Regions from separate parts of the Homo sapiens genome. Here region 1 is linked to region 2. Evidence: fine-mapped expression QTL. A gene starts in region 2. The other region holds a variant in brackets. All regions are shown on one strand. Distances are from middle to middle.

Region 1 (5,389 bases), 35 kb after region 2:
CTTTGAATACAGAGGATCTCAGATTGTTAGGGGGACACTTTGTGAAGAATTAAGTTGGTGAGATAATTCCATGTTTTCATTCATAGGCTTTCTGTTTATGCTTTTCTTTCAGCCAAGAATGTTCTCCACTTTTTTTTTTGGTTTCTTGTAGCAGTTCAAAGTTTGTATATCTAGTAAAGCATTCCTTTCATTTTTATATTACATTTAGTTGTGTTCATGTTTCTCTCTTCATTATAAAGTTGAAAAAAACAGAGGTTTTGTTTCATCCTCTATGTTTAAGTATAGCTGACATCCAGTAAATGTTGATCAAATATATATATGTCATCATCATTTCATTCACTTATTCAGCCGATGTACACTGAATGTATGTTATGTTTCACACACTGTTGTAGGCACGTGGGGTACCATAGGGAACTAAAGAGATTAAAAAGAGTATTGCTGTCCTCAAATAGCATACATTCTATCGGGAGCTTCAGCTTCTCATCTATAAAATGGAGATACCTACTTACAAAGTTGTGAAAATGAGAAATGTGTATAATGCAGTGCCTAGCACATTTGTAGATGTTTATTCATTGGTAATTATTATTTTACAAATATTTGTTTGAGATATAAACAGTTGAACAAAAGAGAATTCCCATTAGTCTAATCACTTATTGACCACACAAATTTATTGAAATTTAGACCTCAGAAACAAACCTTTAAAAATAAAAGCAACACTGTTTCCTCTGAGATCATTTTTTCTTTCTTATGTGCAGTGGATCCAAACTTCTACAGCAAAAACTTACTTCTTTTAGGAAAGACATACTTGAAACTACACAACAAAAAGCTTGCTGCTTTCTGGCTAATGAAAGCCAAGGACTATCCAGCACACACAGAGGAGGATAAACAGGTAAAACATCTCCCATAAAGTAAGGCAGAAAGGTTTTGAGGCACTATTAAATGGTGAATTAAGAACTTCTTTAAAAGCATAATTTTCTAAATGCATAATATTGTTGAAAACAAGTGTGTTCATTTCAAGTGTAAATTGATTGACATTTATATTTCTATATAGGAAATAATTTAGTTACTATCACCAGGTGGATGTTACGGGTTGCCTGCTACAATGCAGAATTATTCCTGTTTGACACACATGGCAGATCGAGTTAACATTTCTAAAACATAAAAGTCATGGGATGTGTACTAAAGTGGAAGAGCTGAGAGTCTCATCTGGTCACTGTCAAGACATTTTATTGTTATAATGTCCTATCTGGTTTTTGGAAACTCTTAGAAACCCCACTTTATAAACTTAAATTTCACAAGTTAGTCTCTTAGCTCTCCTGTTTACTTATAACATGTATTTTTCCATTTTAGATACAGACAGAAGCTGCTCAGTTGCTTACAAGTTTCAGTGAGAAGAATTGAGAACTTTTCAGAGAAGATTTATGAAATAGCTAATAAACATTGCCTTTTCTTTTAATTCTAAACTTAATATATGAACTATAACTGTTCTACGGCTTTTTAAATGTTGTGACCATTTAACCGTGTAAATATAAAATATTCTAGGCTTCTTCACAAATAATAGGGTAAAATAAATAATCGCCATAAGAGTGGTAGAAATAAATCTCCATGGCTCAGGCAAAGAGATTATTTTGCATCCTGGATACCAGCAATGCAAAATGGTATGAGATTTCTAAGGATTGATCACATTGGGATGGGAGATCAAGCAAAGAAATATTTGTAGAGGAGGGGAAATGGATCTATAGGGGATATACAGGGGGATGGATTTTCAAATTGGATTGATTCTAAGTTGAAATCTTGAAGAGAAGGTGTGGTGACAGTGGTTAGGATGTTGTGGGTTCCTGACATAAAGTAGTTAAATGATATATCTTGGAGCTAACCTGTGTAAGTAAAGAACTAAGTAAGGAGATGACTAAAAATGGAGTAGTTTCCTTTTTTATTTTTTTGAGACAGAGTCTCACTTTGTTTCCCAGGCTGGTGTGCAGTGGCACAATCTCGGCCCACTGCAGCCTCCGCCTCCCGGGTTCAAGTGATTCTCCTGCCTTAGCCTCCTGAGTGGCTGGGATTACAGGGTTGTACCACCACACTCGGCTAACTTTTGTATTTTTGGTAGAGATGGGGTTTTGCCATGTTGGCTAGGCTGGTCTCAAACTCCTGGCCTCAAGTGATCTGCCCGCCTTGGCCTCCCAAATTGCTGGGATTACAGGCGTGAGCCACCGCACCTGGCCAGTTTACTTTAAATGTGGTGTAGTCTCATGGTAAACTGAATTTGTCATCAGATGCAAAGTTCTATTCCCTAATGGAATGGAAGGAACACAAAACTTAAGAGTGAAATGGAATACTAAGATGTTTTTAAATAGGCAGGACTATGCTACTCACTTGAGGCTGGAGTGCCACCACTGCAAAATCTTTTTAAGTTTTGTAAAAAGGAGCATCTTGAATCCACTTAGATAAAGACAGACTGTGTGTGTAGGTGGATTTTTCCCAAAGGATTTGGGAATTGTAATGTTACAATGAACTGTATGGATATGTTTGTCATGTACATTTTCAAACAAAAAGGAAAACTGAAAGTAGTGATCTTTGTATACCCATCTCTTAGATTCAGTGATTTTGCTATATAGGTTGTGTATCCCTTATCTGAAATACTTGGGACTAGTAGAAGCATCTTGGATTTGGGATGTTTTTCCAAATTTTGGAATACCTGCATACACACAATAAGATATCTTGGAGATGGGACCCAAGTTTAAACACAAATTCACTTGTTTCATATATACCTTATGCACATAGCTTGAAGGTAACTTTATATAACATTATTTTTAATAATTTTGTGCATTGAGACCAAGTTTGCATACCTTGAACCATCAGAAAGCAAAGGTGTCATTATCTCAGCCACTCATGTGGGTAATTTGTGGTTGGTTGATGTCACCATCATTCCTGACTGAATGTATATGCTACCAATAAGCAGTTATTTTCTTATACTTATTCATGCATAAGTACTTAACAGTAAAAAATATGACATAACTCGCA[C/T]AGGAACAAGGATGGCAAAAAAAAAAATATGACACACCACTGATACAGTGAAAAAATAATGTGGTCAGGGTAGCTAGGCAACAGTAGCATCACCAGAAACCTGTATCAGCTGTTAAACGGCAACAACAATGGCAGGCTTTCAGTTTCCCACTTAATGATGCTGTATTTTAAAAGGTTATTGTATACTGTAATTTTATTTTTGTAGGTGAAGAGAAACAGAAGCAGCTGAAGGGCCAGGAAGTGGGTCTTTCTAGGGATGTGGCATTCTGCTGGATGGCTTTTTAAAATGGGTTTTTTCCTTTAGGGAGACCGAATAAACTGTGTTGTGCACCTGCATTTTGACTGTGACCTGTTATGTGAGGTCAGATGTGGAATTTTCTACCTGTAGCATCATTTTGGTGCTCAGAAAGTTTTGAATTATGGAGCACGAATTTCAGGTTTCAGATTTTTGGAAATAGGGATGTTCAACCTGTATTTATACATGTGTGTTTGTGTGTGTATAGACACATACATTTCTAAACCTTTTGAAACTGATTGCAAGCATCATAATAGTTCACCCCAAATGTGTCAGCATGCATTTTCTCAGAATAAAGACATCTTCCTAAACAAACACAAAACCATTATCACAACTGGAGAAGTTAACAGTTCTCTAACATCATCTAATATCTACCCATATTCAAATTTTCTCAAATGTCCCCAAGATGTCTCATGCTTTCTAAAATCAGGATCCAAAGATTATACATTGCATTTGATTTGTTGCTAATCTTTCCATCCACAACAGTTCCCCATCTTTTTCTTCTTGCAACATTGACTTTTTGAATAGGCCAGTCCGGTTGTCATAGATTCTCTCGCATTCCAGATTGGTCTAATTGACCACACTTTGAGAACCGCTGTTCCAACTTATTTCCAGGACTCAAATTAGTTCTATTAGATCTTTGCCTGACTTTCACATTTATCACTTACTGATTTTTCTTTTAGCCTTTTTGTTTCATTTTCTTGGCTCTTTTCATTTATATCTTCCATATCCCTTATTTTACATTTGGTTGTATCTCTTCTTCCTTAGATACTTTATAATTGCCTTCACATCTGATATGTGTTTGTCTTTTTCTCCGAATTTTTTTCCTGATTTTAGCCAGTCATTCACATCTGCATTTTGTTTGTCCAGTTCTGAGTTTTTAAGTTGCTATTTCAGATTTTTTAAATATCTAATAATTTAATTCATATTAGCATATTGTGTTAAAGTTTACTCTCCTTTTTCTCATTTTCAATTTCTCTTTAGAGTGACTTTATTTTTTTTCCCTAGGGATGTAATTTTATGTTGAGTTACCAGCAATACTAGGTCATCAAATGGGAAGAAAGGGTCTGGGTTAGTTCAAGAATATTTTCTGCTTAGTTGTTTGTTTTTTGTGAGATCAGGTATCATTCAATAATAAAGCTTTTTATGGAGGTCTTACCTCCTGATTCCTTATTAGAACTTTAAAAAATATTTTTACTTTCAAAAAATCATAGATTCACAAATTGAAAAAAAAAAAAAAAAGATCCTGTGTACCTTTCTCTCAGCCTATCCCAGTGCTAACATCTCATATAACCTGTAGTACAATAGCAAAACCTGGAAACTGACATTGGTACAGACCACAGACCTTATATTTAAATTTTACCACTTTTAAATGCTCTTGTGTGTATAGTTGTATGCAATTCTATCACATGTAGATTTTTGGTAACTGCCACCATAATCAAGATACAGACCTGTTCCGTCATCACAAAGATCCCCAGTGCTGTCCCTTTACAGTCACACCCATCTACCTCCTCCTCTCCCCCACCCATCCCTAACTCTGACAGCACTAATCTGTTCTCCATAATTTTGTTATTTCAACAATGTTATACAAATGGAATCATACAGTGAGACCCTGTGATACTTTTTTTCACTCAACATAATTCCCTTGAGACCTAAGTTCTATCAATAGTTTGTTTCTTTTTACAGTTGACTAGTATTTCATTTTATGGGCATACCATATCAACCATATGCTGAGGGGCATTTAGGTTATTCCTGATTTTTAGCTATTACAAATAAAGCTGCTATGAGCATTATATGCAGGTTTTTATGTCTACATAGATTTTATCTCTCTGGGATACATGCCCAGGAGTGTGGCTCCTGGGTCCTTTTATCTTCATTTTTCCCCTTTACTCTCTGAGGGTTAGGTTTCTTCTGCAAGACATGGTGCCTTCCCAAGATTCTGATTCTGTGCACTAAGTCTCTTCCATTTGACTTCCCAGGAGCCTGATTCCCCACGTGTCACATTGGTCCGTGACGTTTCCCCACTAAGGGTGAGACCCATTACTGAGAACAAACCCCAGGAATCCCTTA
Region 2 (5,389 bases):
TGGTCTCAAACATCCTGGGCTCAAGCTGTTCTCCCGATTTGGCCTCCCAAAATATTGGGATTACAGGTGTGAGCCACTACGCCCAGCCTATATTCTTAAGGTTATCAAACTTCCACACCTTTCCTCTGAAACTCCACACTCCAACTCTCTATGCTTTACTTGGCTGTTATATTAGTTATCAGTTGCTGTGTAACAGATTACATCAAATTTAGTGGCTTAAAACAGGAACAATCATTTATTATCTGTCATAGCTTCTGTGGTTTAGGAATTTAGAAGTGGCTTAGCTGGGTGCTTCTGGCTCATCATCTCTCTTGATGTTGCAGTCAGATATTGGCCAAGGCTGCAATCATCTGATGGCCTGACGGGCTGAAGGAGTTCTTCAGCCCAAAAGTTCAATTGTGCCAAGGCTGAGAAACCCTGCTTTAAACCGATGGGACTATACATTTAAAAAATACTAATGTCGTGAAAGACCAAGGCTGACGATTTAAAGATTTAAAGAAAGTAGAAACATAACAAATGCAAGACATTATCAAGATTTGATCTTGAATTTAGAAAAAAAAATCATTAGTATAAAGGACAGTATTGGGAATTAAACAAAATTTGTATATTAAATAATAGTATTCTGTCAATTTCAGTTTCCTGAATTTGATAATTAAACTGGGACTAAGTAAGGGAATGTCTTGTTTCTAAGACTGAAGAGTCATGATATCTGTAATCTACTCTCAAAAGGCCTTACAACAGAAAATACTAGGAATATAATATGTGTATTATAGGTAAGATATGTAAAGAAAGATAAAGCAAATGTGAGAAAAAGGTAACAATGGCTGAATCTAGCTGAAGAATATATGGGAGTTCCTGCAACTTTTCTTAGGATCTAATTTTTTTTTCAAAGCTAAAAACTTAATTACAAATTCACTCTAGCAGAGATATCAGAAACTTAATTTCACTGTTATCATGGTATCCAGTGGCATAAACATTTAGCAATGTTGAGGGGGTAGCTGCCAGTAGAAATGCATAAAATAAAAGTGATTCTGTCTTTGGGAAAAAACAGCTAGGTTTCAGAAGTTGGGAAGGAGATCTATATATTTTTAAAGATAGACTTTAAAGACATAATCCTAAAGAAATACAGCTGATTTAATGGGACTAGTGGAGGTAGCAATCATATAGTAGAAGGAGCACTGGACTCAGAGTAGAAAGACATGGATTCCTGTCTTCTAACATATCCTTGGTTAGGTTAATACATCTCTTTGAGTTACAGTTTTTTCATTTGTAAACCTGGGATACCACTTACTTCACAAGGTAGTTCGGAAGATCAATACGACTATGTATTAATTCCCTATACAGTATTAAAAGTACCATAGAAATGCAACCTAATTTTTTAAAACCATGACTCGCCTCCCTTATTACCCATAAGATTTTTCGTTAAACCCATATAGTAGGTACTCCCTTTGCAGTCTGTGTTTCCACCCACCCTGATCAGGCCTCAAGTAGGATCCAAAATTTCTTCATTTTCCCACAAAAGAATTCCACTCGAGCAAGAAATTTTATTTTACTCGAGTAAAATAAAATACTTTGCTCGAGTAAGTAAAACATCTTATTGAAGAATTTTAGGGGAGACCAGGGTTTGTTTTTGTTTCTGTTTTTTACTACACATGCCCTAGCATTCAAGGGCATCAGTATCCTTTCCAGAGGCCTCCTCCCGCTAGTTCCTCTTCCCAAAACGCTTTGCATTTTTTGTTTCTTTGCTCTGGACTCTCTCTTGAATCTACCCCCTTGAGTCGCTCAGTCGAAGAGACTGAGACTTTCCCTTCTTCATGTTGGGCAACATAATTCTTCCAATTATTTACTTCCAAAAAAGACCCACTAGTACCAAGATTCAATCTACTTTTGAAGGCAGCAGATAATTAAAATGACAATTTTTTTTCTGGCATACTTGTATTCTCGGGTCTATTTCCGAGCTTTCAGTTCTATTCTGGCGACGAATCCTTGTGCCCAAACCATGAAAGACCCCCTAGAGAGATGGAGCAGAAACAAGTCAGAGCGCCTGAAGAGAGCGCTCTCACGGCCTCAGTCCTGGACGCAGGCGCGGAAAGTCCATTAAGTCCCACCCAATCGGGGTATTTCCCACCCCCTAAGCCCGTGCACCGGAAACCATGGGGGCGGAAGAGGTGCTGGGCAGGAGGCGGAAGAGGTGCTGTGCAGGAGGCGGGCGGGCGCGGTTCTTTCCGGAAGGATTGAATCTCCTTTAGCCCCGCCCGCCTCCGTAGCTGCCTGAAGTAGTGCAGGGTCAGCCCGCAAGTTGCAGGTCATGGCGCTGGCTGCTCGACTGTGGCGCCTTCTGCCTTTCCGACGTGGAGCCGCCCCGGGGTCTCGTCTCCCTGCGGGGACTTCGGGCAGCCGCGGGCATTGCGGCCCCTGTCGATTCCGCGGCTTCGAGGTACCCCCGTGGTCCTGGCTCCCGCTCCTCACTTCCTACTCAGTGGGTTCCGGCTCCCCCTTAACTTAAGTGGTGGCGGCCCCGCGCTGCCTAAGGAATGTGGTGAACCGAGGAAAGAACTCGGGGCCACTGTGCCTGGAACGCCCGGACAGGTCCCTTCCATTTTGCAAACCTCCACTATCCTTAACTGGGGCTGTCAGAGAAGGAGTGGGGTTTGCCCCCACGCGCCCCAGAAGCTGCCTGCTACCCGCCCTTCTTGTGCGAAATGTAAAACAGGACGGGAAAGAACCTTGACCGCTGTGAAATTATTCTCCCTGTAGGCGATGACAGATACAACAGCGCTTGAGGCTGCCCCTTTCAGACTTTGAAAAGTGTGGTGTGTGATTTAAAAAGTTCTACGACTCAGAAGCAGAGATTTCATACTGTTTAGGTTTTTGTTTAAAAATGTTTATTTCTCAGTTGCCCGTTGTATCTGCATAACGTCAATGAAGGTTGTCGGCATGTTGTAGTCTCAGTTCTGGTATTTCTATTAGACTGCTCGTGGGCCTCTGTTTATTCTTGTCAGGGAATTGGAATGGCATTAATGCATATGATATATTTCACATGAACTAGGGGTTTCATTATTTTAAACTCAAATTTTTAACTGCTCAGTTAAAATCTTTCAGAATTATTATGGGACTGATGGTGGGGAGGGGTGGTTAAAATTTGGCATATTCCCCTTCCTTGGAAGTTTATAACCAAATGGGGAGGTTATAGATAATATAGGCAGAGAGATGGGAGGAGTTCTAAGTATGAAACTAGTTAGCCGTAAGTTTTCAAATTGGAACAATGATGAGTTTGAAGTCCCATTTTAGGCCTGGCCCCTTGGCTCAGCCTGTAATCCCAGCACTTTGGGAAGCCGAGGCGGAAGGATTGCTTGAGTCCAGGGGTTTGAAACCAGCCTGGGCAACACAGTGAGACCCTGTCTCTACAAAAAAATTTAAAAGTTAGCCATGTACATTTTTATATGTAGTAATTACTATATATGATAATCTTGTCTGTAAGATTCATTTTTATTATGTGTTGGTGTCTCATATTTTACTTCATACAATTTGCAATATCCATGCATTTGCAAATAAGTTGTAGCAAATAAGTTGTAGCTCTTCCTTTCCAGCAGGAGTGTGATTTTTAGATGAGCGGCGACTCCAGGGGATATCTTTTTCTCAATAAGATACGCTTTGAGATAGTTTTACTAAAGATTTTGATGAAGTAATTTTTAAGCTTCCAGTATTATGATCGATTGCTTTGGGGGTGGGAGAAAATTCATGTAATTTTTGCTTGGGGTAGCAGTACCTTCAAATTTTCAAAGTTTGTAACTCTTAACATAATTGTTTCCATAGGTAATGGGAAACCCAGGAACTTTCAAAAGAGGCCTTTTACTCTCAGCTTTGTCGTATTTGGGTTTTGAAACTTACCAGGTTATCTCTCAGGCTGCTGTGGTTCATGCCACAGCCAAAGGTAAGCATAAATTAGATATATGGAACATTTAGAGTTTTTTTGTGTGCGTACATTCAGAATTTTTATTTTAAAACAAAGAATCAGGGTAATGTTAATAATAGAAAATCCATATGGAAATATTCACAATCTGCTCAGTGAGAAATGGGAAAACAACTTCCCTGCCTAACTGCCAACCTACTGTTTGAGGAGCCAGAAGTTGACGTGAAGTTGGAAGAAGGTCACCTTTTCCAGCTAAACCCCACTCCATAGCTATGTGCATTTTTATTTGAAGTCTCCGTGACCAGAGGAAACAGTGAGAACTGAGAACCAAGATACCGTTATCAGCAAGGGTTTGGCTAAAGGGTCTGAGATGTGTAAGCACCAAGAAGGGGAAGGGAAATTGAGCAACATATGAAAAAGGGGCTGTAGGAACACAGAAAAAATAAGTCAACAATAACCTATTTCCATCCAGAGCAAAGGGACAGTGCACACATATTCATCCTCTCAAGTGTGGGCTACACTGTACATTGACTCATACTATCTCGAACATGGTCTGTTGGAAAGATTGAGACCCCCTAAGGGCACTTGGCATAGGACCACAGTGACATGGTAACAGACATAGACAAGCATGGCATGACCCTAAAGGCAACAACACACCTTTAGATAATAATCGTTCAGAAAAAAATCCCAGAGCTGAGGTTATAAATTCCAAGTTAGCTATAAACATTCTTTGGGGAATTCCTTTAAAGATATGAGTTAAAATAAAACAAAATCAACACCTAAAATCTCCTAAAGCACAAAATGGAGAAATAATGAATCTCTACCAAGAACTGATTATTTTAAGTTTCTCATTTGGATGGCTCTCCCACCAGATAGGTGGTGGGATTACTTCAAAAGTAATGAGTCTCCTACAAGGAGGAGTTGTTTGGTCCAGTGAGGGGGAACAAGCTTTCTAGAAATAACTTTCCCTTCCCTTGACTCCATTCAAAATTAGAACCCATCAACCACCATTAACTACAATGCCCATATTAGTTAATAATCCTAGATTTCAAGTACTACTACATGTAAACTATTAAAAGAAAAAAGTTCCAAAGGAAATCAATAACTTTATTATGTAGGCATATGACTTTTATGGGAAATTAAGAGTTTCCATCTGAAGGACAGAAATTGTCAAGAGGTAATGTGCAGACTTCAGGCACCACATAATATACCCTCCAATAATGAACTACATTTCTCCCTAAATTCTTCATATTGCACGCTAACCTCCCCAGCATGAAATCTTCTACTGTATAACCTCTCTTTAAACACCTCCCTCCAATCTCAATTTCCTTCTGTTTTTATTATTTGGCAAAATTACACTTAAAAAAATAAACATTTCCATCATGGGACATGTATACCTATGTAACAAACCTGCGCATTCTGCACCTGTATCCCAGAACTTAAAAAATTATGTAATTAAACCAGAGGGTAAAATAA

Alleles and levels. Alleles are on the strand shown, and positions count from the first base shown. SD is a standard deviation of normalised expression in the study named.
With allele T in place of C in region 1, the expression in adrenal gland of the gene that starts at base 2,243 in region 2 is lower (small effect, 0.26 SD a copy in GTEx).

The links. PIP is the estimated chance that this variant, and not a neighbour inherited with it, causes the effect.
Region 1: its variant is fine-mapped to the expression of RMDN1 in adrenal gland (GTEx, PIP 0.92).

Annotation. Positions count from the first base shown.
Region 1 is chr8:86,470,320-86,475,708 of GRCh38, reverse strand. RMDN1 (regulator of microtubule dynamics 1) reads left to right here. Exons shown (of 10, transcript NM_016033.3): 9 at 756-889; 10 at 1,351-3,360. The coding sequence ends at 1,401. Among named protein-coding and RNA genes, the nearest start is that of RMDN1, 36 kb to the left of the region's middle. The variant C/T (reference allele first, on the strand shown) is at 3,025.
Region 2 is chr8:86,505,540-86,510,928 of GRCh38, reverse strand. RMDN1 (regulator of microtubule dynamics 1) reads left to right here and starts at 2,243. Exons shown (of 10, transcript NM_016033.3): 1 at 2,243-2,437; 2 at 3,817-3,934. The coding sequence starts at 2,309. It also overlaps the pseudogene SLC2A3P4. RefSeq lists an enhancer at 2,329-2,498.